Linked DNA regions of Homo sapiens: all the other regions are reported to be linked to region 3. The links are microRNA targets in miRTarBase. Many come from high-throughput screens and were not tested one by one. Region 3 holds a microRNA gene; each other region holds the end of a gene's coding sequence.

Evidence for each region. Region 3 holds the annotated microRNA hsa-miR-6878-5p (AGGGAGAAAGCUAGAAGCUGAAG, at 3,654-3,676, shown strand). A microRNA usually pairs through its seed, bases 2 to 8, with sites in the 3' UTR of a target mRNA and lowers its output. Matches are read on the target gene's strand: a 7mer-m8 pairs with bases 2 to 8, a 7mer-A1 pairs with bases 2 to 7 and ends in A, and an 8mer does both.
Region 1: the mRNA of SETD5 is a reported target of hsa-miR-6878-5p. Seed matches in the 3' UTR shown: 7mer-m8 at 908-914, 7mer-A1 at 1,000-1,006, 7mer-m8 at 1,843-1,849 and 7mer-m8 at 2,468-2,474.
Region 2: miRTarBase lists ADGRL1 as a target of hsa-miR-6878-5p. Seed matches in the 3' UTR shown: 7mer-A1 at 1,107-1,113 and 7mer-m8 at 2,809-2,815.
Region 4: the mRNA of SGSM2 is a reported target of hsa-miR-6878-5p. The part of its 3' UTR that is shown has no 7-base or 8-base seed match.
Region 5: the mRNA of SYT7 is a reported target of hsa-miR-6878-5p. Seed matches in the 3' UTR shown: 7mer-m8 at 3,902-3,908 and 7mer-A1 at 1,146-1,152.
Region 6: miRTarBase lists MYL12A as a target of hsa-miR-6878-5p. Seed matches in the 3' UTR shown: 7mer-m8 at 3,976-3,982.

The regions. Positions count from the first base shown.
Region 1 is chr3:9,475,401-9,480,478 of GRCh38, forward strand. It overlaps SETD5 (SET domain containing 5), which reads left to right. Exons shown (of 23, transcript NM_001080517.3): 23 at 83-2,754. The coding sequence ends at 691. Among named protein-coding and RNA genes, the nearest start is that of LHFPL4, 76 kb to the right of the region's middle.
Region 2 is chr19:14,146,661-14,151,660 of GRCh38, reverse strand. It overlaps ADGRL1 (adhesion G protein-coupled receptor L1), which reads left to right. Exons shown (of 23, transcript NM_014921.5): 23 at 46-3,918. The coding sequence ends at 788. All of the region lies in intron 1 of ADGRL1-AS1 (ADGRL1 antisense RNA 1), which reads right to left. Among named protein-coding and RNA genes, the nearest start is that of ADGRL1-AS1, 12 kb to the right of the region's middle. RefSeq lists an enhancer at 3,040-3,783.
Region 3 is chr1:150,488,697-150,493,780 of GRCh38, forward strand. It overlaps MIR6878 (microRNA 6878), which reads left to right and starts at 3,649; the gene lies at 3,649-3,714. It overlaps TARS2 (threonyl-tRNA synthetase 2, mitochondrial), which reads left to right. Exons shown (of 18, transcript NM_025150.5): 3 at 268-391; 4 at 1,905-2,029; 5 at 2,698-2,815; 6 at 2,902-2,966; 7 at 3,715-3,793.
Region 4 is chr17:2,378,873-2,383,940 of GRCh38, reverse strand. SGSM2 (small G protein signaling modulator 2) reads right to left here. Exons shown (of 24, transcript NM_014853.3): 23 at 4,738-4,905; 24 at 2,887-4,509. The coding sequence ends at 4,421. Among named protein-coding and RNA genes, the nearest start is that of MNT, 20 kb to the left of the region's middle. RefSeq lists an enhancer at 911-1,120.
Region 5 is chr11:61,513,935-61,519,018 of GRCh38, forward strand. It overlaps SYT7 (synaptotagmin 7), which reads right to left. Exons shown (of 13, transcript NM_001365809.2): 13 at 1-4,797. The coding sequence ends at 4,693. Among named protein-coding and RNA genes, the nearest start is that of LRRC10B, 7.7 kb to the left of the region's middle.
Region 6 is chr18:3,255,032-3,260,115 of GRCh38, reverse strand. It overlaps MYL12A (myosin light chain 12A), which reads right to left. Exons shown (of 4, transcript NM_006471.4): 4 at 3,880-4,370. The coding sequence ends at 4,198. It overlaps MYL12-AS1 (MYL12A and MYL12B antisense RNA 1), which reads left to right. Exons shown (of 4, transcript NR_130145.1): 3 at 3,794-3,874; 4 at 4,278-4,680. Among named protein-coding and RNA genes, the nearest start is that of MYL12B, 4.6 kb to the left of the region's middle.

The DNA.
Region 1 (5,078 bases), not on the chromosome of region 3:
GAATGTAGGGTATTATAAATGTTCACCAGCCATTTAAGGGACTTGTTCGCGTCCTTATTCGTTTCCTCCCAACTTTGTCTAGCTCCTGCAGTGTGATAGTCCTCGGACAGAATCACAAAGCCTCCTTCAGCAGAGTTCCTCCCCCTTCAGAGGACATCCTACACAGTCTCCAGGATACAGTTATCGAACTACTGCACTGAGACCTGGAAACCCCCCCTCTCACGGTTCTTCAGAATCATCCCTCTCTTCCACGTCCTATTCCAGCCCCGCCCACCCTGTGTCCACAGACTCGTTGGCCCCATTTACGGGGACACCAGGGTATTTTAGCAGCCAGCCACATTCTGGAAACAGCACTGGCAGCAATCTTCCAAGGAGGAGCTGCCCTTCTAGTGCTGCTAGCCCTACCCTGCAGGGACCCTCAGACTCGCCAACCTCAGATTCAGTTTCTCAGTCCAGCACAGGAACTCTGAGTTCCACCTCCTTTCCTCAGAACTCTAGGTCGTCATTGCCATCAGACTTACGGACTATCAGTCTGCCCAGTGCTGGGCAGTCAGCTGTCTACCAGGCCTCCAGGGTATCTGCGGTTTCCAATTCACAGCACTACCCACACCGTGGGAGTGGGGGTGTGCACCAGTACCGACTCCAGCCACTGCAAGGGTCAGGAGTCAAGACTCAGACGGGACTTTCCTAGGGCTTCTGGATTTGGGCAAACAGAACTGAATGAGCCCATAGCTGCTTCCTTCCAGCTGCCTCTGGAACCTAGGCCGAGCATATTGCTGAGGAACGGGGGGTACAAGGTGCCAGAGGATTGGGTCTGGTGGACAAGAAACAAGACTTGTGGTCACAATTGGCCTCTGGCCTTGGAGAAAGCTGTAAATCTTGTCTGAAGCAGAGACTATAAAGAAGTTTCTCCCTGCTGTCAAGGGTACATTGTTGACAAGCAAATGGTGTTTCGGTTAGTAACGGTTCTAAGTGCAATGAGTTGTGTTGAAGCCTCCGTCTCCCATCCTTGCCTGTAGCCCGTAGTCACTTGTGCAGTGAGGACATCTTTTTAAATTTAAAAAAAAAAAAAAAAAAAGTTTTCAAAGGAAAAAAAGTTAAAAGAGCCAATCTCAAAGCCCCAAGCCATCTGAGTACTGTTAGGGTTTTATGCACTTAAGAAAAAAGGTAGGTATGTAAATGTTCATCCTAAGACAACCATTCCAAAAGCAGGTATCTGGCCAATGTGTGTCCACCAAGAATACTGTTTATCTTTGTCTTAAGATCACCAAGAAATAGGCAAGGATAGTAAAGCTTGGAACCTGCACCAACTGGAGGGTGCCTGGCTCTTTGAAGAAAAGCTCATGGTCAGCTCTTGATTATTCGGGAGCAGATTATTTGAGTAGATTGTCTGAGCCTCCAACTGTTACCATCCTACTCCCCCTTCCCAAGCTATTTCACAGCTCAGTAACCCATGAAGTAAGTAGACAAGAAAAGGAGGAATGAGACATGATATAGGCCAATTGCATTGCTACTTACCAGCTTTTGGCAATAAATTTCATTAGGAAGGATACCGAGTGGTTTGGGAATGCTTCGAATTTTATTTTTTCTACTCCCAATTAATCAGGAGTTGATGATCCCATGAGCAGGACCGCCTCCATGATTGGGGAGCATGCACTTGTGACTGCAGGGTAAGAGTGGGAAGATAGGTTTGTGGAGTGGCACCGACAGGACTGTGATTGTGTGTGGGCCTGCCCCACATTTCTCTGGGGGATGCTTATGTGAGAGTGGGCCCAGTGAAAGAGTTACCAAGCCACCCACACCCCTAACACTGTTCTGGATGAGAGATGAGAGCAGACCGGCTTCTCCCCATCAGTGCATTGTGCCTGTTGTACACCCCTGGAGGAGCCCTGGAGCCAGCCCAGGTGGGGTACACAATCTTTTTAAATTCCATATGGTTGCCAGCTTATTTCTTTCACTTGTTTACTGTAATATCTGGCGTGTTTTTATTTATCTAATTTTGTATTCAGTTATAACCATGGTAGGGGTAGTGAATATATGACAGGTGTAATCCCTGGTGCTGCAGTGGACCTTCTTTTCTTTTGGACAAGATAATACTGTGAGTTTCCCTCCTTCCTTCCCTCTAATTTGTTTTCCTTTTTTCCCCAGCCTCTTGCATCCCCTTCTTTTCTACCCTGTCCTACAACTATCATATGCACAGTCTTCTCTCTTTGTGTGTGACTGTTACAAAATTTCACTTTTCAAAATCGAAATCAGGTGTTTGCTCAAATGAGGGGAGATTTTTTTTTTTTTTTTTTTTTTAAATGCTGAGACCTCAGCAGAGTACTTTTCTTTTTGTTGTTTCCCCCACAAACCCATCAGTCTGGGAGAGCATTGGGAGTGGAAATCATGTTGCCTGGGATGCTGGTTTCTTTGTATATTATATAAAACGTATGTAAATGTCTCTCCATTTGGGCTGGGGTTTGCATTCTCCCCTTGGCTATTTAACCAAGGGGAGAGGCCAGCGGGCAGGCGGCCCTCACCCTGCCTGGCACGTGCAGAGACCCCAGCCACTCTGTGTGGGCAGGGTGCTGTCAAGACCAGACCTCTTGGGGGGGTAGGGGCGGGGGGGTGGGGGGAACTCTTGGAAGGGAAGAAGTATCACTTCTTTCTCAAGTGGAGTGTTTACACCTTGCTGTAACATTTGAACTTTCACAAGAGATGTAATAATTTTGATAATAAAATTCTTAACCATAATAATCATAAAGTTGAGAACTTCTTTGTCCAATTTTGTGGCCCTGCCTTGCCTGGTTTTCCTAATGCCATTTTTATCTGAGGAGAATGTGCCCTTGGTGGAGTTGTTTTGCCCATGATAATGGGGCCAGGAATACTGTCTGATCTTCCTTCGCTTTTTATGATTGCAGTCAGGACAGTGTGAAGGCAAACCTGCAGCAGGGCAAGTGAACATTAAAAACTGCCTTGAACTTGAGTGGTGTTCCTGACCTTGGCCTCATTCATTCAGCAACTATTTATTGGTCTTTTTCATTCAAAAACAATGCTGGACATTGTTTTTGGTGCTGGGCTTATGGTGATTAGAATGCTGATTGGGGGTGGGCAAAGTAAGGTCTCTTCTTTCATGGAGTTTACATTCTAGTGGAGGAGAGAACTAAACTAGTATATAATTTTAAATAGTCATTGCCATGTTAATTGTTTCATAGCAGATATGTGACTAAGACAGTTGAAGGAGCCACTCTAGATTGGTTGGTCAAGAAAAGTCTCTGAGGAGTTGACATTTAAACTGAGACTTCAGTGACAAGGAGGCAGTCCTGGGACGATGTGAGTGAAATTCATTCTTGAACGTTGCAGACTCTGTGGTAGAAAAAGCTTGGTTAAGATGTAATAAATGGATGGGGCTGGGAAAGAGGATAGAAGATCCTGTAAGAGGGAGATAGGGGACAGATCATGTAGAGCAGGAGTCGGCAAACTCTTTCTATAAAGGGCCAGATAGTAAATATTTAGACTTTGCAAGCCATGTATGGTCTCTGTCATAACTATTCAGCCCTTTGGCTGGGTGCGAATCATGCCTGTAATTCCAGCACTTTGGGAGGCCCAAGAGAGCAGATCACTTGAGGTCAGAAGTTCGAGACCAGCCTGGCCAACATGGCAAAACCCTGTCTACTAAAAATACAAAAATTAACCAGGTGTGGTGGTGCGCACCTGTAATCCCAGCTACTCAGGAGGCTGAGGCAGGAGAATCTCTTGAACCTGGGAGGAGGAGGTTATAGTGAACCAAGGTCACTCCACTGCACTCCAGCCTGGGTGATGGAGCGAGACTCTGTCTCAAAAAAAAAAAAAAAAAAAAAAAAAAAAACAACTATTCAGCTCTTCCATTGCAGTGCAAAAGCAGGCATAGACAGTATGTGGCTATGTTCCAATAAAACTTTATTTACAGGAAACAAGTGGCAAGTTGGATTTGGTTTGCAGGCTGTAGTTTGCTGGTCTCTAATGTAGAACCTTGTAGGTATAATTTAAATAATCTGCATTCAGTAAGTACAGTGGAGGAGTCATTGCAGGATTTTAAGGAGAGAAGTGACATTGTCTAATTTATATTTGGTTGATTTTTAAAAATTACTCTGATTGTTTTGATCCTGTTGGTGAAGAGATGAATAGGAGCTGAGAAACTGGTGTGGAAGGTAGAGCAGTTGTTCAGGCAAGCAACAATGCAGTGGTGGCTTCTATTAAGACGGTAATGATGGGGATAAGAAGTGATTGGAGTCAGGATATGTTTTGCAAGTACACAGCAGAACTTGCCAATGGATTGAATTGGCAGTATTCTAACATTTGTTTGACAAATGTTTACTGAGTAACTAAGGTAGACTGCAGTTTGCAAAGCACATAAGGGATTCAAAGATGAAGATGCTATTTATTAGTTGAAGGAGTTTAGAAATGGAAGGCTGGGCGTGGTGGCTCATGCCTGTAATCCCAGCACTTTGGGGGGCCAAGGCAGGCGGATCACAAGATCAGGAGTTTGAGACCAGCCTGAACAACATGGTGAAACCCTGTCTCTACTAAAAATACAAAAATTAGCCGGGCGTGGTGGTGCGTGCCTGTAATCCCAGCTCCTTGGGAGGCTGGGGCAGGAGAATCGCTTGAACCCAGGAGGCAGAGGTTGCAGTGAGCCGAGATCGTGCCACTACACTCCAGCCTGGGCGACAGAGCGAGACTCCGTCTCAAAAGAAAATAGAAAGTGGAAACATAACAAAACCACTTGTTTTATTAGAAGATCCCTCCAAAATGCCCTAGGAATACCTAGGTAACCTACCACCAACCACAACCTGATTCTACCTGGGTTAGGAAGAGAATAGTGTGCATGATCTTTAGAAAGTGTTTCCATATACAGTGTCTTATTTTGACTCATAATTCTGTGAAGAAAGCAAGCCAAATGCCAGAAGTTAAAGATGAGAAATTGAGACCTAGTACAGTGTTTCAGCTATAGCACTGGGCTTCTGATAATGAATAAAACTAACTGATTTCTGCCATAATTGGAAGGTTCTGTTCCATGACCATTGGCTGAACACCTACTGTGTGCTAGGCTATAT
Region 2 (5,000 bases), not on the chromosome of region 3:
TCCAGGGCCCCTCTTCAACCTGACCAGCCCCTTTCTGCCCTGCAGAGCACCCCTTGGGAGGCCGGGAAGCCTGTGGCATGGACACCCTGCCCCTGAACGGCAACTTCAATAACAGTTACTCCTTGCGAAGTGGGGATTTCCCTCCCGGGGATGGGGGCCCTGAGCCGCCCCGAGGCCGGAACCTAGCCGATGCGGCGGCCTTTGAGAAGATGATCATCTCAGAGCTGGTGCACAACAACCTGCGGGGGAGCAGCAGCGCGGCCAAGGGCCCTCCACCGCCTGAGCCCCCTGTGCCACCTGTGCCAGGGGGCGGGGGCGAGGAAGAGGCGGGCGGGCCCGGGGGTGCTGACCGGGCCGAGATTGAACTTCTCTATAAGGCCCTGGAGGAGCCTCTGCTGCTGCCCCGGGCCCAGTCGGTGCTGTACCAGAGCGATCTGGACGAGTCGGAGAGCTGCACGGCCGAGGACGGCGCCACCAGCCGGCCCCTCTCCTCCCCTCCTGGCCGGGACTCCCTCTATGCCAGCGGGGCCAACCTGCGGGACTCACCCTCCTACCCGGACAGCAGCCCTGAGGGGCCCAGTGAGGCCCTGCCCCCACCCCCTCCCGCACCCCCCGGCCCCCCCGAAATCTACTACACCTCGCGCCCGCCAGCCCTGGTGGCCCGGAATCCCCTGCAGGGCTACTACCAGGTGCGGCGTCCTAGCCACGAGGGCTACCTGGCAGCCCCAGGCCTTGAGGGGCCAGGGCCCGATGGGGACGGGCAGATGCAGCTGGTCACCAGTCTCTGAGGGCACCTCATGGACCAGGGGCTGGTGGCCCAGGCCAGGGAGGGAACCCTGGGCAGGGCTCTGGTGGGAGAGGGAGACAGATGGAGGCAGTGGCTGGTGGGCCACTCTCTCCAGGTGCCCCTCAGCCATGGGCCCTACAGTCCCCTCAGGGGACTCTAACCTGGGGGCCTGAGGTGCCAGGGTTCACAGACAGGGTTTCCCACCAGCCACACGCACCAGCTCTATTTGGGGGAAGTGTAGTGAGGAGGAGCCCAGAGGACCCCAGGGGAGTGAGGAGGGAGAACTTGGAAGGGTGCAGCCCACTTCCAGACTCTCCCCTCTCCCACCCTTCTACCCTGTGAAGGGAAATGAGGGCTTTAGTTTCCTGGGCAGGGAGGGGCAGCTTCTGAGGTTGCCAAAGGCCCCCACTGGATGGAACCTGTTAGCTGCTCCTCTCCGCAGCCAGAAATGCTGCCGGCTGCACCCAGAGGGAGCAGTGAGGCAGGACAGATGGACAGGTTCCTCCTGCGCTGTAATTCCCTGCTCCCTGGAGACTGGGAAAAGGCCGCAGGGCAGGGGGACTGGGCGGTGGTGGCTGGTGGTTTAAAGGTTGAACTTTCTCTGAAGCTCCTTTCCCCTTGCTCTTGGTCCCTGCCCCGCAAGCAAACCTGCCCCCTCTGCCTCCCAGTGCACCCAATGACCCCCTCCCTTGGGGCGACTCCTGATGAAGCACAACTCCCCGCAGGGCCCCCAGCCCACAGGGGTGGCCATATTTGGGCAGTTCCCAGTCCTGTGGGCTCGGCTATCTGGGGAGCAGATTTTGGGTCTGGATCTCCCTGGGGAGTGGGTCCTGGGCTTGGATCTTTCCCTAGGGGGCCCTCTTACTCCTTCCTCTCTCCTCCTCCTTCCCCATTGCTGTAAATATTTCAACGAAATGGAAAAGAAAAAAAAAAGACAAAAAAAAAAAAAAAGAAAAGAAAAAAAATCTCATCACTTGAAGCCACCGGGAGCCTGCGGCCCGGGCCAGCCCGGGCTTTCTCCGGAGCAGAGCAGCGCTGCTGGCCTGGCAGCCAGGACTTCTCCGTGTACGTGCATCCCCAGTCCCCGCCGGGGCGGGCGGGCCGCCAGAGCAGCTTTTTACAATCCAGAGACAGAAAACAAAATCTAGATGCAACAGCGAAACAAAGAACCCATTTCCTTCCTGGCACCCTCCTTTCCTGCTCCGCCTGCCCGGCATCATCAGCCCTTCTGGGGCGTGTACCTCTCACTGCCTGCCCCAGGACCAGAGGCCTGTCTCCCCCTTCCCTCCCCACCGGCCCGGGGGAGACCTCTTCACACCCAAAGATGCTTTGTCAAGATGGCTGCGCTGTCCCTTTGAGTTCCTGCTTCTTGTATATTGCTCTGGGGACTCTCGCCGGGGAAGATGGGGCTGATTTCCCACCTAGAGAGGTTGATGGCAGAAGGAAAATGGGGAGGCACTGGGGTTGTGGAGGGCATGGGTATGGCTGAGGAGGGTGCTGGGAACGGCAAGGCGGTCTGGGGGATGGGGAGGGGCAAAGGTGAGAGATCACCTTCCCTATCCTCCACCTTCCCGCAGGGAAGACGAAGCCAGGTGCCAGGGCTGGGGTCGGGACACCCATGTTCTGGGCGGCTTGACCCCAAATCCCAGACCCCGGAAGCTCCAGGCTCGGGATGTGTCCTGAGCACCTGTCCCGGCCCCCTCCTCTCCAGCCTGTCAGGCCAGCCTCCCCAGCCCCCTTCCCTCAACTCTAGGGGCAGCATAGCCCCAGGCCACCCTAGCCCAGCCCCTGCATTGCCGTTTCCCCAGAGGTGGCCCCTCCACCTCTGCTCTGACCTCTCCCCATCTCTCTGCCCCTCCTTTTCTCACAAGTGCCATGAGTTTTCAAACATCTTCGGGTCTCAGCCTGCTGCTGCCATGAACTTTGTTGGGTTAAGGGGGAGGGGCTCTAGGAAGGAACTGGGGGGAAGGGGACAGGTAGGTGGCTGGAGGGACCCTTTTTGCTGCTAGAAAGCCCCTCCCTTCTCCCGGGGAGCTGGGGCTGGCTTGTCCCCATCAATTAGGGGAGAAGGGGTCAGACCAAAGATGGTGGTTTGTCCCGTGTAAGGGAACAGGTGTGGGGAAGAGGTGGGGTTGGGTTCCAACTCTGGCTTTTTCTGGTAGAAAGGCCTAACCCATTACACCAGAAGACCATGGGTGAAGTCTAGATGGGGAGGAGAAGTGAGGCCAGGGACAGTCTTGCCAGACGACTCTGAGGAGGGCAAGGGACAGTTCCATGGCCCTTCCCGGACTGCACTAGGCTGGGAGCTCTGTTGTGTGGAGGGGTGGTCAGAGGTCTGTGAAGAGCGGGCAGGAGGCATGAGCAGGCGAGGAGCTGGCCTGTCCCGGGAAGCAGCCCAGCCTGTGGCTGCCCCCGACACCAGGAGGAGGGCCAGGAGAGTTCCAGGGGGCTGAGGCACACAGAGAGGCCAACTTCCTCCCTGCCCAGCCTTCCTTGTATCTCTCCAGACTCGGACAATCAAAGGGAGAGAGGGTGTATCGGGTCCTGTTCCAGCCGGCATCGCCGGGTGGCTTCCAGGCCTCAGAGCTGTGTGGCAGGGCCCCCTGCTGGGGCTGGACATCACTGCAGTCCAGTGCAAAGCCGCCCCCAGAGCCCAGGTGTCCCCCCAACCTAACCAGACCTGGTGCCTTGACGCCCCCACCCCAGCTGGGACGGTACAGAGAAGGGTCTTGGTTTCCTCTCCTACTCCCTTCCTTAGGCTCCTGAACTCGTTTGCTCCTAAATCTTGTTAATTCTTTTTCTCTGGATTTTGGTTTCTTTTGGCTTTCCCTTGCCTTCCCCTTTCTCTGTCTCCAACACTCTTTCCCCATGTCTTTCTGGCTGTCTCTATGTTCCTCTTCTCTTATCCTCAACTTTCTGTCCATTCGGGCCTCCTCCCCACCTCCCACGCCCCAGCCCCTCCCTCCTTGGTCTCCTTTTCGATATGCCAAACCAATTTTGGGTCGAGTGCATTTAACGAGAACAAAACAAAAGGCTCATAACAACAAGAACGTTTCAGAAAAAAACAAAAAGTTTTAAAAAAATTGTTGAGTCAAAAAGTCAAACAATAAAGAAATTAAGATTTCTTGGAATGACAAGAGTGGTGTGACTTCTTGAGTGGGGGAGTAAGAAATGGGTGAATAGCTGGGCGCGGTGGCTCAGGCCTGTAATCCCAGCATTTTGGGAGGCCGAGGTGGGTGGATCACTTGAGGCCAGGAGTTTGAGACTAGCCTAGTCAACATGGTGAAACCCCATCTCTACTAAAAAGACAAAATTAGCTGGGCGTGGTGGCAAGCACCTGTGGTCCCAGCTACTTGGGAGGCTAAGGCAGGAGAATTGCTTGAACCCGGCTGGGAGGCAGAGGTTGCAGTAAGCCAAGATCGTACCACTGCACTCCAGCCTGGGCTATAGAGTGAAATTCTGTCTCAAAAAAGAAAGAAAGAAATGGTTGAGCAGATCTGCACAGGGGCGTCCCCATGGGCTCTGGTCTGCACTCGAGCATTCAGAACCCCTGGCAGAGGCTTGACAGTTATAGAATCATTCACGTTTATGAGACCTTGGTAAGTTCCTGGGCCTGGTGGAGCATTTCATGTGCAGTTTCTCTGAATCCTCACAAAATCCTCCCAGATGGAGACAGCGATTAGAGTTCCATTTTACAGATGGGGAAACTGAGGCTTACAGCCCTCAGATGCATGCCCAAGTCTCTCTGACCAGGCCACTGTTCCATGCTGTCTCACAGAAGCCCTTCTTGGCCCAGACGTCTGTCCCCAGGCTGTACTAGAGCAGAGCTCAGGAATTTTACACTGTGATGTCTCATTACAATTGCCATTCCTACACTCCCACACGCTACTGGCAGGGAGTGCTTTCAAACTTGACACACGGTGGAATTGCATCATGTGTATTTCACGTTGTCAGTTCACCAACGAACTGCCCATGCTCAGAGAGAGGCATAACTACTCAAACTACAAGGATCCTTTTCCGGGCCCCTCTGCCTTAAAAAGATACCTGTGTCTAGGACACCACCCACCTCCCCACAACAGCCACTCCTTCCCAGTCTTCATGGCTGGCTCCTTCTCATCTGACCTCCTAATGATGGGGAACCCAGGGGCTCAGTCCTTAGACCTTTTCTCTCACTCCCTGGAAGGTTTCACCCCATCTCATGGTTTGAAATGCC
Region 3 (5,084 bases):
ATAAATTATTATTAACTGTATTCACCCAACTCTGCTATGGAACATTAGAGCATATTCCTTCTGTCTAACTCTATTTTTGTACCCATTAGCCAACCTCTTCATCTCCCCTCCCCCATCCTTTCCAGCCTCTGGTAACTATCACTCTATTCTCTACCACTGTGAGATCAACTTTTTAAACTCTCATATAGGAATCAGAACATGTGATATTTTCCTTTTTGTGCCTTGTAACCCTGTCTTTTTCTTCATCCCCACCTTCCACTGCTGAAGTTCAACACTGGCAGATACTGCAGTGGCTGCTCAAGTGAATGGAGAACCTTATGATCTGGAGCGGCCCTTGGAGACAGATTCTGACCTCAGATTTCTGACATTCGATTCCCCAGAGGGGAAAGCAGTAAGTTTCTTTCTTATCAGGAATACAGTGACTACTAAACCAAGAGATATTGAAGCAGGAAATTCTAACATTTTATTCTTTTGCCGCAGTTTCTCCATTTGCAGTTGGGAGGGAGACCTACCACAGACTGTCTTGACTATTTCTGGTTAGGAAACTTATGGTGAAAGTTTTTAACTTAGCTTCGATCTATTAAGCAAACATTTGTGCTAGTGAGAGGGAGAGAGATGATATGTTGAAAAAACGAAAGGATAAATATGTAAATTCAGCCCCCTCAACTCTTGAGCACGTACATTATAAGTCATCTGTAGTGTATATTCAATTCTAACATGGCTTATACAGCTGAGCAAACAACCTGGTCACCTCCCCACCTTGTCTTCTTCATGTCAGCTCAGGTAGCACAGACCTTGCCTATTAGGATCCAGAAAAATAGAGTTCTCCTGCCATCTATGTGTAAATAGTGACCAAATCCAAGAGGAATATATCGCACTAGATTCGTGGGACAGAAAAAAATAGGACTAAAAGACCAAACAGAGACCTAAGTAACCACTGTGTTAAGAAGATAGCTTATTCTGGCCAGGCACAGTAGCTCACGCCTGTAATCCCAGCACTTTGGGAGGCCGAGGCAGGTGGATCATCTGAGGTCAAGAGTTCAAGACCAGCCTGGCCAACATAGTAGAAACCCCGTCTCTACTAAAAATACAAAAATTAGCTGGGCGTGGTGGTGAGCACTTGTCATCCCAGCTAATTGAGAGGCTGAGGCAGGAGAATTGCTTGAACCCTGGAGGCGGAGGTTGCAGTGAGCTGAGATCGCGTCATTGCACTCTAGCCTGGGCGACAGAGCGAGACTCCGTCTCAAAAAGAAAAATTATTCTGAAGCCCTAAAAGCTTACAGGAGCAGCAGAAGACTGACTGGCCTCCAGCTTCTATGCTTTGGAACTGGGAAGAACCAAGGATTGAGGGGTGGGGCTGGAGCTTCTATGCACTGAAAGAAGAAAAAATACTGGCCTTCTTTCTTTTCTATTCAGTCTTTTTTTTTTTTTTTTTTTTTTGAGATGGAGTCTCACTCTGTCACCCAGGCTGGAGTGCAGTGGCGCGATCTTGGTTCACTGCAACTTCCACCTCCCGGGTTCAAGTGATTCTCCTGCCTCAGCCTCCTGAGTAGCTGGGATTACAGACACACGCCACCATGCCTGGCTAGTTTTGTATGTTTTAGCAGAGACAGGGTTTCACCATGTTGGCCAGACTGGCCTCGAACTCCTGACCTCAGATGATCCGCCTGCCTTGACCTCCTGAAGTGTTGGGGTTACAGGCATGAGCTGCTGTGCCCAGCCTTTTTTTTTAAGCTTGTTACTTTTTAGTGGTCACCCCCAAAATCTAGGATCCCCATTTTGTGGTAGTTATTCCTAGAAGAACCATACCGGCTTTCCTACCAGCTTTTGTGAGGAAGAGCTCAGAGATCTAGGGGTTAAGGGAGAAGTTTATGAACTTGTGAACCCCTTTTTTGTGAACCCAGGTGTTCTGGCACTCCAGCACCCATGTCCTGGGGGCAGCAGCTGAACAATTCCTAGGTGCTGTTCTCTGCAGAGGTCCAAGTACAGAATATGGCTTTTACCATGATTTCTTCCTGGGAAAGGAGAGGTGAGTAATGAAAGGAAGGAGGAGAATGATTCTGGGATGGTTTCTGAGGCTCTTTTCAGGGGCCTTGGGCATGCTCCATTTGGATGAGGAAGCTGGAGGAGAAGGGTTTCTCTAGGTCTCAACTATGACATTAGTATCTCCTTCTGTGCTAGTCCATGTCCCTCTTCTAACTTTGCTTGAAATTTACCTTCTTGGCTGGTGCACATGTAGTCCCAGCTACTTGGGAGGCTGAGGTGGAAGGATCACTTGAGCCTGGGAGGTTGAGGCTGTGGTGAGCCATGATCTTAACCACTGCACCCAACTTGTGTGACACAGCAAGACACTTTCTCAAAAAAAAAACAAAAAGAAAAAGAAGAAACAACTTACTTTGTTACTTGTTAGCTTTCATAAATTCAAGTTTTACTTAATCGCCCTCATTACTATTGTTCTAACTTTGTCTATCCAGATTTCCTGCATTCAACTTTTAACTTCATGCATAGAGCTTTTTCTCCAGCTGTAATATCTGTTACCTGATATCCTATTTATATTTTCTCTGAGTTTGTCTGTCTTTGCCTATAACTCTAGATTTCTCTTGAAGGACAGGACCTTACCCGCTAGCCAACAGGTGTGTCACCCAGGTGATTGATGCACCTCATAGGATGCAACCCAACCAATTCTCCTCTTTCCAGGACAATCCGGGGCTCAGAGCTGCCTGTTTTGGAGCGGATTTGCCAGGAACTTACAGCTGCTGCTCGACCCTTCCGGAGGCTAGAGGCTTCACGGGATCAGCTTCGCCAGTTGTTCAAGGTGGGGTGGAGGGAAGAGGTGGCTCTTCCAGGACATCTTTGTGGGAATAAACACTTTTCTTCAATCTCCCTTCTACCTTTTTCCAGGATAACCCCTTTAAGCTTCACTTGATTGAGGAGAAAGTGACAGGTCCAACAGCAACAGTATATGGGTAAGAGTTGTCAAGATTAAGGCAAACAGAGAGGTGGGGAAGCATTGAAGAAGGCCAGAAATGCGATAAGGGAAGAAAGATAGAAGGTAATTTGTGTTGCTCCAGAAAAAGAAATGGGAATGGGAATTGATTTTTTTTTTTTCTTTTTTTGAGACGGAGTCTTGGTCTGTCTCCCAGGCTGGAGTGCGGTAGCACGATCTCGGCTCACTGCAACCTCCGCCTCCTGGGTTCAAGTGATTCTCCTGCCTTAGCCTCCAGAGTGGCTGGGATTACAGGCATGTGCCACCATGCCTGGCTAGTTTTTTTTTTTTTTTTTTTTTTTGAGATGAAGTCTTGTTCTGTCACCCAGGCTGGAATGCAGTGGCGCGATCTCGGCTCACTGCATCTCTGCCTCCCGGGTTCAAACAATTCTTCTGCCTCAGCCTCCCGAGTAGCTGGAACTACAGGCATGCACCACCATGCCTAGCTAATTTTTATATTTTTAGTAGAGACGGGGTTTCACCATATTGTCCAGGCTGGTCTCGAACTCCTGACCACGTGATCCACCCACCTTGGCCTCCCAAAGTTCTGGGATTATAGACATGAGCCACCGCGCCCTGCCAGGGAATTGATTTTTATCTGCCATTGCCCTCTCTCAGTAGGACAGTTCCTTTCTCTTCACCTCTTCTGTCAGCTAAAGACCATGAGAGGGAGAAAGCTAGAAGCTGAAGATTCTGAAAATCACTAACTGGCCTCTTCTTTCTCCTAGGTGTGGCACATTGGTTGACCTTTGCCAGGGCCCCCACCTTCGGCATACTGGACAGATTGGAGGACTGAAGCTGCTATCGGTCAGTTGTGGGACAGAGTTAGGTTAAGATTCCTATTTTGAGCCGGGCATGGTGGCTCACGCTTGTAATCCCAGCACTTTGGGAGGCTGAGGCAGATGGATCATAAAGTCAGGAGTTTGAGACCAGCCTGGCCAATATGGTGAAACCCCGTCTCTACTAAAAATACAAAAATTAGCTGGGTGTGGTGGCACACACCTGTAGTCCTAGCTGCTCGGGAGGCTGAGACAGGAGAGTTGCCTGAACCTGGGAGGCGGAGGTTGTAGTGAGCCGAGACTGCACTACTGCACTCCAGCCTGGGCAACAGAGCGAGAGTCCATCTCAAAAAAAAAAAAAAAAAAATTCCTGGTTTCACTGGGATGAGCAGGAGAATCGGAAGGTGATACTTTCTGTCGGCACCCCCCTTTTTTTTTTTTGAGACCAAGTCTCTCGGTCGCCCAGGCTGGAGTGCAGTGGCGCGATCTTGGCTCACTGCAAGCTTCGCCTCCTGGATTCAAGCAATTCTCCTGCTTCAGCCTCCCGAGTAGCTGGGATAATAGGTGTGCACCACCATGCCCAGCTACTTTTTGTATTTTTAGTAGAGACAGGGTTTCACCATGTTGGCCAGGGTGATCTCAAGTGATCTTCCCTTCTCAGCCTCCCAAAGTGCTGGGATTACAGGCATGAGCCACTGAGCCTGGCCCTGTACTCTCATAAGCTGAGCGGGGAATACAGGAGAAAGAAACTTTGTCCCCACATTCTAAAAACCCGTTTGATGGCACACACTGGACAGCCTGCTAGGGCCCAGAAGCCAATTCAGATGCCCTAATATGATGTCAGTATTAAGGGGGGTGGAGGGGTGGAGCAGGAGGGTGTGAGCAAGCTGGATGGGTCATACAGGGAAGGGTTGTAGAGAGAGGGGGCGTGGTCCAGGAGGAAGATGAACACCATTTGACAGGCACAGGGAAAATACCTTTAGTAAAGGGCATGCTTTTTATGAAAATACCGTTCTGCATGGTGGCTCACGCCTATAATCCCAGCACTTTGGGAAGCCGAGGTGGGTGGACCACCTGAGGTCGGGAGTTCAAGACCGGCCTGACCAACATGGAGAAACCCCGTCTCTACTAAAAATACAAAATTAACTGGGCGTGGTGGCACATGCCTGTAATCCCAGCTACTTGTGAGGCTGAGGCAGGAGAATCACTTGAACCTGGGAGGTGGAGGTTGTGGCGATCCAAGATCGTGCCATTGCACTCTAGCCTGGGCAACAAGAGCAAAACTCCGTCTCAAAAAAAAAAAAAAGAAAAGAAAATAC
Region 4 (5,068 bases), not on the chromosome of region 3:
CTCTGACCCGGTGCCTCCGCCGCTCTGAAAATGGCAGTTCTGGTCGGTCTGAAACTTTTGCAAAGCTTCGTATTTCCTCAGACCATTTTACAAGCATTATCTTGTTTCATCTTTCAACAGCCAAGTGAAGTAAATAAGCCAGACTTAGCCCCATTTTGGCAGATAAGGAAACAGGATTGAGGTGGCCCAGTGACTTGTTGAGGCCACACGGCTAGCTGGAGACTTCGTTGGAGCTGCAGTCAGACCTCTGAACTGGGTACAGAGTTCTTACCCAGCATCTGCCACCCTTGTGGCACCTGGGGCCAGTCCTAGACTCGGATCCAATAAAAAAGGTACAGGGGAGTTGCCCCAGGGATTGGGCACAGAGGGTGAGAGCTTCCTGAGGGGCTGCTCTGGGGGTGCAGTTACAACAGGTCAGCCGGGGAGTCCATAAAGCTGTCCTCTAAGGGAAAGGAACAAGGGGAAGAAGAGGCTGGAGGTCAGGGGCAAAGAGCCGTGTTCTCAGCTGGGCTGGAAGCCCCTTGTCCCTGTGGCTGTGTCTTCTCTCCCTGGGCAGGCTGTCATGGGAGGAGGTGGTGTGGGAAGTGAGGTCAGGGAGCCACTAGCTAGGCCTTGCTGGAGACCAGGCTGGGCAAGGGGGCCCAGCTTCTCATTTCCACCCTGACAGTACCTGACTGACTCCCAGTCCCCACAGGGGAGACTGACTCTGCGTCTCTTCCTGAGGTGGGGTGGGTAGGGGTTATCCTTGAGGAAGGGAGTGCTGTCTTGGGTCCTGTTTTCTGAAAGAGAAGAGTTGACTTCAAAAAGTTCAGGCCGGGCACGGTGGCACACGCCTGTAATCCCAGCACTTCGGGAGGCTTAGGTGGGCAGATCACCTGAGGTCTGGAGTTCGAGACCAGCCTGGCCAACATGGCAAAAACCCTTCTCTACTAAAAATACAAAAATGAGCCGGGCATGGTGGTGCATGCCTATGATCCCAGCTACTCAGGAGGCTGAGGCAGGAGAATCACTTGAACCCGGGGGGTGGAGGCTGCAGTGAGCCGAGATTGCGCCACTGCACTCCAGCCTGGGAGACAGAGCGAGACTCTGTCTCAAAAAAAATTTTTTTAATTAAAATGAAAGTTCGGAATCCAGCCCTCCCTACTGAGCCTGCCCTTTTTACTTGTGAGACGCGGGCTCCCTCTGCTGGTAGCTCCTGGAAGAGCTGGGTCACTTCCATTAGCTCACTAAGCGACGCTTTAGGGAAGGGATAGGGTGAGGGTTAACCCTTCCTGGGTGCATGCTCAGTGCCAGGCCCTGTGCCCACTGGGAACACAGATGAAGACCCTCCCCAGGCAGTGATAACTTGGCTGTCATCTGAGGGCTGTCACTAAATCTTTAGGCAGAAGCTGTACTCAAAGCTCCCCCTCACCCACAGTTCTCACTCACCCATGGCTCAGCTGGAGCTTATAAGAAAGGGGCCTGTGGTCAGGATAAAGTATGAATCCAGGTGCTTCCATTTACCAGCTCCTGCTCTGTAAGAGGAAGACCTGACTTTCCAGATTGCAAAGGTTCCTTGAGATGGTGTTTGGAGAGCCCACTGTGCTGCTTGCTCTTCCCGCCCCAGCTGTCCCATCGTTTTGAAAAGCTGTGGGATCCCCTCTGGTCCCAGGATCCCAGTCCAGTAGTCAGGGGGAGTAGGGCAGGACGGAAGTGTGTGAAGGGTTACTCCCAGGCTAGGTGAAATTTCCTTTAGGTGGTCACAGCAAAGGAATTCTGACTCCTCCAGGCAACAGAGTCGGCTGGCGGGTCGGGGGTGTTCCCCTGAAGGGCTCATCAAGTTCCCTGGCCCCAGAGCTCTCTCTGCACCAACTGGTTTCTTTGGGTAGCTCTGGCCACTAGTTTGCACTCTTTCCTAAAAGCTGGGTTCAGGGCCAGATGCAGTGGCTCAAGCCTGTAATCCCAGCACTTCGGGAGGCCAAGTGGGTGGACTGCTTGAGGCCAGAGTTCAAGACTAGCCTGAGCAACAGTGAGCCTCTGCCTCTACCAAAAAGATAGAAAAACTGCCATGATGGGGGCCTGCATCCCTGGCTACTTGGGAGGCTGAGTTGGGAGGATCGCTTGAGCCTAGGAGTTCAAGGCTGCAGTGAGCCATGATCATACCATTGCACTCCATTCTGGGAGAGATAGCAAGACTCTGTGTCTGTCTATCTGTCTGTCTCTCTCTCTGTATAATAAAGCTGGGTTCAGCCTGCTAGGACCATGGGCTGGGGTCTTCAGCTTTGAGTGAGTGGAAAACAGGCCCTAATGTCCAGGAAGCCAGTGTCCTCTAGGGTAGAAGACATGTTGTGTGACTGGTGTCTTCTCCCTGGAGCCATCGACGATGGGACCAGTAGCACTCGGGTTGGGGAAGGGCAGGAAGAGAGGTGCAGACCCGTTACAGCTGGGCCTGTCTATAGCTCAGCAGGGTCTGACTCCTCCTGACACTCCCCTCCGGCCTCTCAGACAGTGCTCGGGGTGAGAGCCACACCCACAGGGGCAGCTCCGTTGCCATCAGCTGCAGTGGCATAGTCAAGCTCCAGCTTCTCATTGCAGCCTGGTCAGTAGGGCAGGCAGGGGGTAGGGATGGGACAGGGACCTTCTCTCATCCACAGGCTAGAGGGGCCACTGGTCATCGTGAGATGGGGCCATGACTCTGGGGTGAGGTCCCCTCAAGGGCGCTGAGTACTTGAGGTTTGGCTATCAAATCACCCTGACTTCCTGACCAGCCCACACCCTCCAGACTGGCGGCTGGAGTACCTCTCTTGGAAACTTTAGTTTTTTGCCGTCCTCGCCTTTTGGGGCTGGCCGACTGTGGAGCTTAAAGAAGGCACGTGGTCTCTCAGTGTCCAGTCCCAGAGGCTCCAGTGTTGACAAATGTTGTTTATTGGTCTGTTACACAGAAGAGTATAGTTTCTGAGGCAAAAATCATACACACTCTGCTCCTCACAAAACCACGGAGTCACTAAGGCAGGCACACAATGGCCACACGTGCTTGGTGGAGGCCAAGGACTCACGGACAACAAGGATGGACAATGGGGTGGTCTGGCCCCCAGACAGGCTGTGCAGTGCCCGGGGGCAGGGCTGGGCTGGGCAGGCTGTGCTGGGTGCAGAAGGGCTGCGGGGCCCTTTGTCATGTTTCTCAAATGCAGAAAGTCTGCCAGACTTTGGTGGCTGCTGGACTAGGCCCCAGCCCCGGGCAGGGCCTCCATGTTCCAGGGCAAGGCCTAGCCTGCATGTGTTGGGGTAGAGGAGGAAGTGGGGATGGCCGAGCAAGCAGCATGCCTAGGCCTGGGGGCAGGAGCTATGCCCTTCCTGGCACCCCCGCATACACAGCTCCTCCAAGGGGGTTTCTGGGTTCCTAGGCCTCTTGGCATCCTGAGAAGCATGTGGAAGGCAGAGCTAGCCTTGCTTCTCACCAGGGACAGATGGGGACACCCATGCATCCCCTGCCTCCCGCAGTCTCAGGGACATGGCAGATGTCTGCGACAGATAATGGGCTGCCCTCGAACTGAGGCCTGTCTCTGAGGGGAGGCTGTGACCGGATTCTTCCCCGACAGAGTCACCCTGGGATTCCTCAGAGCAAGTGCTCCGGTCGCATTCCAGATCATCCACTGGCAAAAGCATCACTTCTTACACGTGGTTTTCAGGGAAGTACCTAATGCAGAACGCAAGGGTGGGGTGGCAGGAGCGAGGCTGTACAGATACACAGAGGTACACTGTACAAGGCCGGGGAGGCCTGGGGGTCACCTCAGGTGGCCAAAGGCAGTGGCAGTGCTGCTGAAGTGGGCTGCTCCCACCCAGGGCCCACATCTTCCGACTGCCCCAGAATCTCGGGGGAGCGGCCTGAAGGCGGCCCGGGTCTCCCGTGCCCGGGTCTCCCGCACCCGTGACGTGTGCCTAAACCAGAAGCAGTTTTGGTTGCTCCAGCTGGGGCTGGTGCACGCACAATATACTGGGACTGCAAAGGGACCCTCAGAAGGGACACAGCACAGAGCCTCTCGCCCTCTGCCACCCCAGCTGAGTAGGGCCCAGGCCGCTATAGCCCCTGTTAATCCTGTGGGGCCCCAGGTTCACTCGTGGGCAGCAGTCCAGGCTGCGGCTGCAGGTGGCAGTGGGGCTACTCCCAGATGTGTGAGAGGGGAGCAGAGTAGGTGTGTCCCCCAAGGCAGCTGCTCCCTGAGGCTGACCCCTCCCATCCCGGCCCTGATCCGAGGGCATCCTGGCCCCTGACTTGCCCTGCAGGGTCAGCACTGCCGGGAGTCGGATCCAGGCTCACAACCGCTTTGTTAGGAACAGAGGTGGGGTCGGTTGGTGGCTGGGGAGGTCTGGGCGGTGACTCCCCTGCACCTCTCCCTGCCGGAGCCCAGGCTCTGCACGGCTGCTGCCTCCTGGCCCCAGCTCACTTGTTCTCTATGAGCATCTGCACCTTGTGGACGAGGTCCCGGGCAATCCGCAGGATCTCCTGGGCATCGTGATGCTCAGCACGTTCTGGGGGGAAACGTGAAGAGCTGTAGAGAGGCCCAGAGAAAGGGCAGCAGGCTAGGAGGTGGCTGACTACCCTGCTCTGTTTCCATCTGCTCTGCTAGATTCTTGACATCCCGGCCTTTGGGGAAGGGCCCCCAGGATTCCTGAGAACCCTCCAGCTGTGTGCGGGGCAGAGGTGGGGGCCTCCACACCTCTGCTCAGGGCAGCCTGGATGGCTGGACCAGCTCGTACCATTGAAAAACTTGATGATGTCAGTGAAGTCCATGTTGTTGTCACGGATGATCTCTCGGTAGGCCTCCACCAGGGCGAGGGCGATGAACAGGACAAAGTGCTCCGATGAGATGTGCCTGGCTGCCCAGATCACCTCCCACACAGCAAACACATCCTCATACAGCAGTTCTGCGGAGAGTAAGCGGCTGCTGCTCACCCGTCCTAGCCGCATATCTGGGGCTGAGGCTGGGATTGAGGCTGAGGCTGGGATTGAGGCTGGGGCTGAGGCTGAGGCTGAGGCTGGGGCTGGGGCTGATGCTGGCCGGACTGGCTGCTCACAGGCCTCTAAATG
Region 5 (5,084 bases), not on the chromosome of region 3:
CTTTGCGTGGGAGGGAGAGGAGCGCAGGACGTAACCCAGGACAGCCTTCCAGAAAGCAGCAGTATCCAGGGGGGGACTCACAGGAGAAAGAAAACACCAGAGGGCGGTGGTCCCAGGTACAGGGAGGGGTGGGGGAGCATCTCAGAGCAGGCATGGACGAAGACAGACCCAGAGAAGCAAAAATGGAGGAAGGCAAAAAGTCCAGGGAAGGGCCCGAGCCAGTGGCAAGGGACTGCCCCCTGTGCTGGGCCTGAGCTGTCTCTGACTTCAGGCTCAGTTTTCCAGGGCTGCTTTCATGGAGAGCGCCTGAACAGAAGCTCTGGCCAAGGGAGCCCCTGAGGCTACTTACCTGACCCCGGGGCTTCCTCTGATCTCTGGAACAGAGATCAGAAGTGATATCTAAACCAGGTTGTGGGAAATGAGGGACAGACAGCTTTGGATGGGGTACTTAGTGCAGCTCCGGGAGGCAGCTGCTGGCCCCAAGTGCTGGGAGCAGAGGGCGGATGGGATGGCCCGCTTCACTCCTGGTGGGGGCAGGGGCCAGCAGGTGGACACATGACAATGGGGATGTGCTCGTTCCTTTTGTGCCTGTGTCTGAACCAGATGTAGCACCTTCCTTCTGAAGTACCCTGAGAGCTGCGGGGGCTCAGCTTCCCCTGGGCTGGGTGGGGAAGAAAGGGCAGGGGATGGGGATGGTTATTGCTTTGTTGTGGCCAGAAGAAACAGGTGGAAGGAAAGAGCTTGCCCAGGGCCACAGAGGCTGCAGAAGGGATTACAACCCAGCTTCCCACACCTCAGGCTGGAACCTGTTCTATTGAGTGGAAGAGACTTTTCTAATCCTAAAGAATGAAACTAGAAGAGGGCTGAGAGAAGCCGCAGGTCCAGCCAACAGACACAGAGCTCATTGTCTTTCCTTTTCCCACCTCAGGGACCAGGAAGGAGGCGCTGGCCTGAAACTACAGTGGCCCCATGGATGGTGGTGGGAAAGCTGGAGCGTCCCCCTTTGGTTTGTCTGAGCTGCCTTGGAGGGTGGCAAGTGTCCTCTGGGAACTGAGGGAGGGGACGTCAGGCTGGGTGACCCTGGAGGGCACCCCTGAGGCCTAGAGAGGACTCTACTCCCAAAAAGCCTTGTGTCAGGCCTGATCTGGGAGATGTAGCTGCCTCTCTGCTTTCTGGGAAGCCAGTGGGATCATATTCTATAGAGATCTGAGGATGGCTGGACACTCGGGAAGGGCCTGGTCACCAGTGAAGTCAAATCCCAAAGGTGACACACTGAGGGGAGGCTCAGCCCCGGGGCCCCCATCCCCTTCACCCCACTGCCTCTGCCCCCAGGGAGGTGAGGGAGGGCTGGGACCCACGGAGGAAACAGCCAAGGCCCTACTTTTTCACGATCCTTTATTAATCAGAACAGGCCTTGCCACAAAAAGCAGGGCCCATTCCCACAAAAATATGATTTTGCAAAGAGGAAATCTTGCTGGCTTAGAGGGTATGTGTGGTGGAAAAATTTTGTATGGTTCTTTTTTTCCTGTTTTTTTTTTTTCTTCAGTTTTTCTTCATTTCTCTTCGCTGCAAAATTTTTTTTTTTGTGATGGTGGGTTTTTGTTTTATTTTTTATAAAACACTTGCACTCAAGAACATACAAACAGTGGCCACCAATCCCCACCCCTGGGGCTCCGGGGAGCCCCCCTGGCTTGTTTGTGGCTGTTTTCCTCTGTCCCTTCCCTGGCATCTGGTGCCAGAGGGCAGGTGCGGGGGTCCTGGGGCGGGTGGAATTTGTACAGCACTTTCATGGGGAGATGGTCACAAGAAAGGAAACCAGGACAAGATAAGGACTAAGTCTAGGGCACCCACAAAGATGGCAGACGAAGCCCATGAAAGGGCCTGCGACAGAGTGAAGAGACGGATGGGCCTGCGTTGGCCTCAGCTAGCTCTGGAGGCTCTGTGGGGGAGGGGCAGGTGGGCCTTGCAGTCAGGATTCGGTAATTACACTTTGCTCACGGGTAGCACCTTCGGAGTCCTCCTGCCTTGACCCCCAGGTCAGGTGATGGTGGCCTCACAACCTCCCCTATGAGGTAGGTGAAGTATTATTACCATCATTTTACAGATGGGGAAACCGAGGCCCAGGGAGTGCGGGTGACTTGCCCAAAGTCCTGGGATGGTGGCAAGGCTCCGGTGCCCTCCCCCCACCCTCAAGTTCCCCCATTCTCTGCTCTCCTATTGCCCTAGACCGCCCCCGCCCCATCCCATACCACCCTTACCTCCCGTGCTAGCCTACCCGGCCCTCGGCCCACCGCTTGCCGCCCCAACATAGCATCCCAGAGCTCCACCTGCACGTGGTGGTGGTGGGGCGCTGGGGAAGCCCAAGCCTGGTCGCTAATGTGCCTGGGTGGGGTCTGGTTGGGAAGAGACCCCTGCCAGGAGATGCTCTCTGCATAGGATTGGCTAAGAGCTCTGTGGGCGGGGCTCGGGAAAAATGGGGAGCCGTTGCCCCGCCCACTCGATACAAGTTGGTTGGATCCCCAGGGCGAAGGCGCCTGGAAGGTGGGGGCTGGCTCACTGGGCGGTCTTCCGCGGGGCAGGCGGGTGGTGGGGGGACAGGAAACCGAGGCGGATCCAAGAGAGGAGTGGAGAAGGGCAGATCCCCTCCTCCGCTCAAGACTTCCCACCACACTCTCTCCCACGTCCACGAGGCCTCGGGGTCGCTGCCCTCCCGTCCCGGCTGGGGGCCGCTCCCCAGCCCGCCAAAGAGGAGGATGCAGTTGGGGCCGACCCCATTTTAAGCAAAGCTACAATATAGAAACATTTGGATTTACAAGGAACGTGGGTGACTATTTGCTTTACATTAGCATTCTTCACTCTACAAAACGATTCACCTACTATGTATGATGTTCCTCCAGATCCCAGGGAGAGGAAATGGTGGGGGTGTGCGATTTAATTTCAGAAAATTTCGGTATGGGCAAAAGGCGACCCGTCTACTGCAGCAAGCAGAATGCTCAGCTCAAGGGGAAGCCGTTCGAAGGAAAATGGTTCCCAAATGCCAATGGTCTCCCCACGCCCTGGATGTGGGGACCCTATCCAGAGTCCCCTTCTTCTCTTTGGGGTGTCACAGGCCCATCCAGAGTGGAACTGGGGGCTAAGACCACGGCCACAGACTGTGGGGGCCTGGCGCCACCTGGCGGTAGTTCTGGGAATGTCAGGCCCAGGCTCGTGGACCCCCAGGATTGGAGGCTTTGTCACCAGCTGGGTCTTGTATCAATACCAGGACCAGCGTGGGGATGAGAGGGCTTAAGCAGGGATCAGCCTGAAATCTGCCGTCTCCAAGGGGAAGCCAGTTTTAGTCTCATCAGTGGCCGAGGCAGAGAAACCACAGCTTCTTTGTGTGTGGCAACCTCAGAACTCACAGAATCCTGGTCTTTTCCCTGCCTCCTTTCCCTGCACTGTGAGTGAGTCGGGCAGAAGGAGCTGCTCCCGGGGACCAGGGAGTGGGGAAGGGTGAGAAGACAGTCCTGGAGAAGGTCAGGTGATGGACGATCAGAGACCACGCACGATGAGACGGAATGAATGGAAGGTCTACAAGCATTGGGGGATGGAGGGGTGGAGGAAAGAAGGGTGGAGGTCTGCACAGGCAGGGAGAGATGAGGAAGGGCAGGCAAGCTGGAAAGCATGGAGAATAGGGCAGATGTGGCTGCGTATGAGGTGTGGGAAGCTGGCGGGGGGTCTTTTGATGAAGGAGTTAGGGCAAAGCTAGTCGGGGCTCGGGACCCCCTGAGAAGGAAGGGAGATGAGTCCTGGTGGAATGCTATGCACACAGTAGGTGCCTAAAAGGTGTGAGTCAGTGTTCAAGAGATGAAATTGCTGAGGAGGGAACTACTTCAGATTCTGAGCAGAGGGGGGCACCAAGGGGAGAAGGGGAGGAGACGGGGGGATGGCAGGAGGCAGCCCAGTTCTCAGCCCAGCTCCAGCAACTGCAGCTCTTCTGTTTCTGACCTCTGCCTCACCCGACCCCACTCAGCCCTATGGGCCTCTCCTCTCACACCCCCGGCCTCCAACCCTGCCTGGCCTTCACAAAACCTGCCTTCTCTGTATAGTCCTCCGCATTTCCAGGCCTCTGTCCCCACGCACACACACAATGGACACAACACGAGTACAAAGGGCCACAGCTCCAGGACCCAGGAGCGGGCTATATACTATCCTCGACATTCAGGGCCCAGCCGGCACCTGAAACTGCCCTGGGGATGGGCCTCTCCTGGCCAGGCCGGGGCCAAACGCCTCAGCCTCCCCTCCCCGGGTCCACATCGGGGGCTGGAGAGGGAGTGGCCTCTCTCCACTCCAGGTGCTGCCTTAAAGAAAATGGGGGACCATGCCCACCTGGCGGGCCTCTGGAGGGGTCTGCCTGTCTGGCCGTCTGGCTCTCGAGCTCCCCCAACTTCTTTAGTATTAGTAAGTCAGGAAGAAAAGGGGCAAAGCAGGAAAATGCCTCCCAGAGCCCCTTCCCCGGAGCTGGACTGTGGGGGATGGGGCTGGTACTTCCTAGAAACGGGGCCCAGTTGAGTCCTGGGACCCCTCCCTGGCTGAGCCCTCAGGGTCCTCCCCTCCCTATGGCAGGGGGCTCAGGCCGGGCGTTGTGCATAAAGTGGTGAGGGCATGATGGGGACCTGGGCCCTCGGCCCCCTGGGCCTCCCTTGGCCCCACTCAGGCCTTCAGCTGGTGCCACTGGGCCACGGGCTGCCGGGGACGGGCAATCATGTCCTTCCAGTGCTTCACCTCCCCTGGCCCGCTCTTCCAGGACAGGTAGATCTGGGGAGAAAGGGGAGACGATGGCATCGGCACAGGCTCCAGGGCACTGGCCCTTTCCCCCACAGGGGTGACACCCCAACTCCACCATGATACCCTAGCCTGTGGCCCCCCAGCCTCCACATGCTGTGACAACCTACCCCACAGAGGCGCTCTCCTCCCTCCCCCAGTCAGCCTGATCTATTTTCCTGGTTGTCTACCCCCACACCCCCAAGCCTGGGCACGCCAGGCCTCTCGGAATTAGACTGCCAACCTATTTTGCAGTGGGGTCTGGAAGGTGGGGTTGGAGG
Region 6 (5,084 bases), not on the chromosome of region 3:
TTAATTACAGAAGCTTCTATTTGACAGCACTATTCTGAAGAAATAATTCTAAGGTATATTGTTCTCTCTAGATGCAAAAGAAAAGCCTATAATAGGCTTTGTTTAATCATGAATAAAAATTTATTCACTAATAAAAATAGCTGGATAGCTAAATATCTATCATTGGGAAATTGTTAATTATAGCATGCCCACATCAAAGATAACTGAAGTTAAGAATGGTTGAAAAAGAAATATACTCAAAACAATGGTGGCTATGCCAAAACATGAGATATAATTTAAGTAGTAAACGAAAAAACAAGTTGTAAACTCATTACAACTCTAAAATGTGTGTGGATAAATACTGGAGAAAAGTCACATTTCCTGCTATTTGAGCAGACACAGAGAAATCTAGACTAAAAAGATATAGGGACTTGGAAGATGGAAGAGCAAGTGGAAATGACTCGAATAAGCAGCAATGGGAAAACTGGGCATTTCTTCAATGTGGGATTAGCTACTACAATCCCTTTATGGACAGAAAAAATAAACTGTACCCGTGAAGAGGACCTAATTCGACACACACAAGTCTGGCATATTGGACCTGCTCAGGAAATCGAAAGTGAACTATTTCAGAATCCACTAGTACCAAACTGACAGGCATTTGTATGCATAGTCTTATAAAATCTTCCTAACAACCTGTTAATGAAATTCTACCTTGAAATCCATCCACTTTTCTAAGGGCAATCCTACGTGGTCTAGGTTCTGTCACATCCTAGCTCTTAGACATGATCCATTTTGTTTCACTAATTGTTCCCCCCTAGTTTGTTGTCTTCTACTCTGCCTATAAACAGGCTTGAATTTGAAGATATGCCCTTTGCCCCTTCTCACTGGCCCACTCGTAAACAAAATAACTACTATTTGGAGACCTAATGTGTCCCAGACCATTTGTCTTTCATGCTTCTAATTTTCAGAAGAAACTTGGATGGTATTGGCCATTTTACAGATGAGGAAACTGGCAATTAAGAACACAAAGTCAAATAGGCAGGTGCAATTCACTTAAGTATGGCTCCAAATCCGTGCTGCTCTTAATCACACAAATGCTGCTTTATATATTATGTTCCTAATATGAACCAACAGTATTATTTCCGTTTTATAAATGAATAAATAGGCCAAGGAAGTTTAAATAACTGACTTAAGGTTATAGAGCCATGACGTAGCAACAAACGGGAATTAAGTGTAGGTCTGCCTGACCCCACACCTAGGCATTATTCACTATCCTGTGCTGCATTATGGATTCTGCACTCAGAACTCTAATAACTCTAGCAAACATGACTAACGACTTGTCACATCTGGGAGGGTCTCATTTAAACCTTCCCATACTCCACTTTTCTGTGTTGGACACTGCCAACCTCCTTACTCTTGAAATTAACTAGGTTTCCGTAAGACTGTTTTTGTGGCTCTATTTACCTCTCCAAACTCTGATCATTTTTTATCTGATCCTCAAGTCTAGGTGTTAAGCCTCTTGCTGTCCTTCCTCTTTTCACTTTGTAGCAAATGGTTTCCTTTCCTTCTCAATTTGCTGTTACTTGTCTCTTATGCTCAGGCCTTCCTCCTTTCTTTCCCAGGAGCATTCAATTCCTGCTCTCATCAAGTTATAGATTCTTTCATCAAGTAAAATTTGGGGCCTGGAATCAAAATGACCATATCATCATATGCAGGTGGATAAGGATGCCACCCCCATTAGGCTGGTTTTGTCCGATTTTTGTTTTCTTTTTCAAGACAGGGTCTCGCTGTCACCCCAGGCTGGAGTACAGTGGCACAGTCAGCTCACTCCAGCCTCAAACTCCTGGGCTCAAGCAATCCTTCCACCTTAGCTTCCAGAGTAGCTGGGACTATAGGCACCCACCACCATGTCCGGCTAATTTTTAATTTTTATGTAGAGATGGGGTTTTGCTTTGTTGCCCAGGCTGATGTCAATCTTCTGGCTTCAAGCAGTCTTCCTACTTCGACCTTCCAAAGTGCTGGGATTACAGATGTGCGCCAACGTGCCTAGCCAGATCTTTTGAAATGGTTTAAGTATGACTTTCATCATGGAAACTTTTGAGACTGATTTTTCAGTCAAACACACCATTGAAATGGATGCTTTTACCTTTCTGTTGGCAATCACTCTTGTTTAAGCAAAGAATGCTATTACTAAATTAGGAGAATTATTTCATTCAGGGTACATCATTGTTCTTAATGCAAGTTGGTTCATTAAGCACTTATCTGAAAGGGAAACAGGGGCCCTGCAAGAGATCCTTTTAGTAGTACCTTGTTTTTCATATAGTGCAAACAATGCTATCTGTTCTTCACTAGAGATGTAACAAAGCATATGATAATTTTTTCTCTTGACATGGAAATTCAATTCAAAAAACAAGATTTTAGCACCATGGCCATAGCCTGGAAAAAGTATTTTGGCTTAACCAGTGAATAAAATTCAGAAACAAAAGACAAAGAATGAAGGCAGGTTCTAAGATTCTAATGCTGAAGAGGTCAAGGACTAGCTTTGACTAGTCCTTCTATTCCTATAGCACTGGCCTTCCCACGTTACAGGATCTAGCTGATCTATCTTATTGGCTGCAAAGGCCTGCTGCCCAGAAGGCTTTTAGTAATTGTTTACTGAATGAGGTAATGGTTTTGTCCAAGGAGAGTCATGTTAATCGTAGCATAAAACTTAAAGTTATTATAGTAATTGTCAATTACTCATCTTCATAGGCTAATTGTCAAATCTTTTCAACCAAATTTTTCTCCATTTCAAATCTTTTAAAACTCATGCTCTTTGAGAGTCAGAGTTTTGGGCTGGGCATGGTTGCTCACACCTGTAATCCCAGCACTTTAGGAGGCAGAGGTGGGAAGATCACTTGAGTACAGGAGTTTTAGACCAGCCTAGGCAACATAATGAGACCTTGTCTCTACAACAAATTAAGAAATTAGCCAGGCATGGTGGTGCCTGCCTGTAGTCCCAACTACTCAGGTGGCTGTGGATCACTTGAGCCCAGGAGGTCAAGGCTGCAGTGAGCTGTGATCGTGCCATTGCACTCCAGCCTGGGTGATAGAGCGAGAGACCCTGTCTGGAAAAAAAAGAGAATCTTGAAGCCCTTTGAGAGTCAGATTTTTAAAGCTGAAAAAGAACGAAACTGTCTGCCACTCCCTGATTAACTGTGAAACAGTTCTGCATTTCTGCAAATAGTAGAAGTTATTTTTAGGACTGAAATAATGACCTCACTTTCCCAGGCATGCAGGTTCAGCTGTTTTGATTGTGGGAAGGTCAGGAATGTCCAAAACTCAAACATGGACTCATGGTGAATCTCTGCATAAACAAATATCTTTCAATACACATTGCTGTGTTAAAGAAAAACTACATATAATAAAAAAAATACTGCATTATATTTCCAGCACTTTAAAACATAACATAAAAATCTCTCTTTGGTAGCATTCCACAGAACCTTTAAGCCAAAATGGTTTTTAAAAATATGACAAATTGAAATTATACTCAGTAACCTGGTCTAATTTTAAATGACCAGAAATTACAAAAGTTTAAATAAAGTGGAAATGTTGGCAGGTATGTCAACTTAAGGACTTAAAGCTATGGAAACTATCATATATGCAAATTCTACAGGAAATTATTTTAAAAATTGGAAGACAAAGTGCAGAAAACCTGATTAGGGCAGTTAAAATTGGATATCCTTGGGAGGAGGAGGAGGAATGGATAGTAGAGGAGATAGGATTGTTAGGAAAACTGGAGGAAGAGAAAGCTAACAACCATATCATTTTCTAGGATTTCCCTCATCTACCTTTCTTTGGGAGATACGACTGAAACCAACAAAAGCCAAGTTTGGTAAATAAGAAGTTTAAACAAGTAAGTATTTTATCATAAAGTTTAATTATGATTCAGAAAAAATCGAGCGAATAACTTTCTCTGAAAAAATATATTGACTCTGTATAGACCACAGTTATTGGGGGAGAAGGGCTGGTAGGTTAAATTATCCTATTTTTTATTCTGAAAATGATATTAATAGAAAGTCCCGTTTCCAGTCTGATTATAAAGATACATATGCCCAAAATGGCTGAGAATAAATACAACAGGAAATGCAAAAGCTGTAAAGCTAAGGGCATGCAAGAGAAAATCTCAGAATACCCAAAGTGGCAACAAGGAACGTTTGGCTGGAATTTGAAGTTATTTCAGTCATCTTTGTCTTTGGCTCCATGTTTCAGGATGCGTGTGAACTCGATGTAATTGAAATTCCCCTTTTTATCAATAGGTGCTTCTCTGTACAGCTCATCCACTTCCTCATCTGTAAACCGATCCCCCATGGTTGTCAGCAGCTCTCTCAAGTAATCTTCCTGTATGGTGCCTGGAGAATAAAGAACAAGGGATCAGAATACATACTATTCTGAGGGTTAATTACAAAGAATATCTATACTTGACTAAGCATGTTCTGTATGTTACAAACTATAAACATGCAAATATATGAACTACAGGGTGTCCACCTACTTAAAACAGCCTCAGCAGAGAAGTGCCTAGAAAAATGCCTAGCTGCTTAGCAGCACTGCTCCGCTCTATCATTTGCTCTATCATTCTGCCTCCACATTCAGCTTCTGATCTCTTGATAAGAGAGACTAAACCTATGCCTAAACAAAGTAATAAAAAGTATGGTTAAAGAATCTAAGCCTTACGGTTCCTTCAAGTGGCATGAATGGTCACATCTTATTCTACAAACAAGTAACATTTACCTGCCAGGCTAAAATCAACACTACATCATACACATCAATAAAGTGGTACAGTGGAAAGAATACCGGAAGCTTGAGGCCCAGTTTTAAGAAGCTATTTTATTTCAGGCATTTCACTTCATCCCTGACTTTGGTTTTCTCAGATGTAAAATGAGATTTTTACTGTTTACAAATCCAATTATTGTAATAAATATGGCCAGTCCCAGCACATGCAAAAACATGGAATAAATATTTGAGCACTAACTATGTGGCAGGCACTGTGCTGGGCAGTGGGGATGTGCAGTGGTAAGCTGAAAGGTGTGTGCTCTTTACTTTGGGAATTTGATACCAGGGTTCTC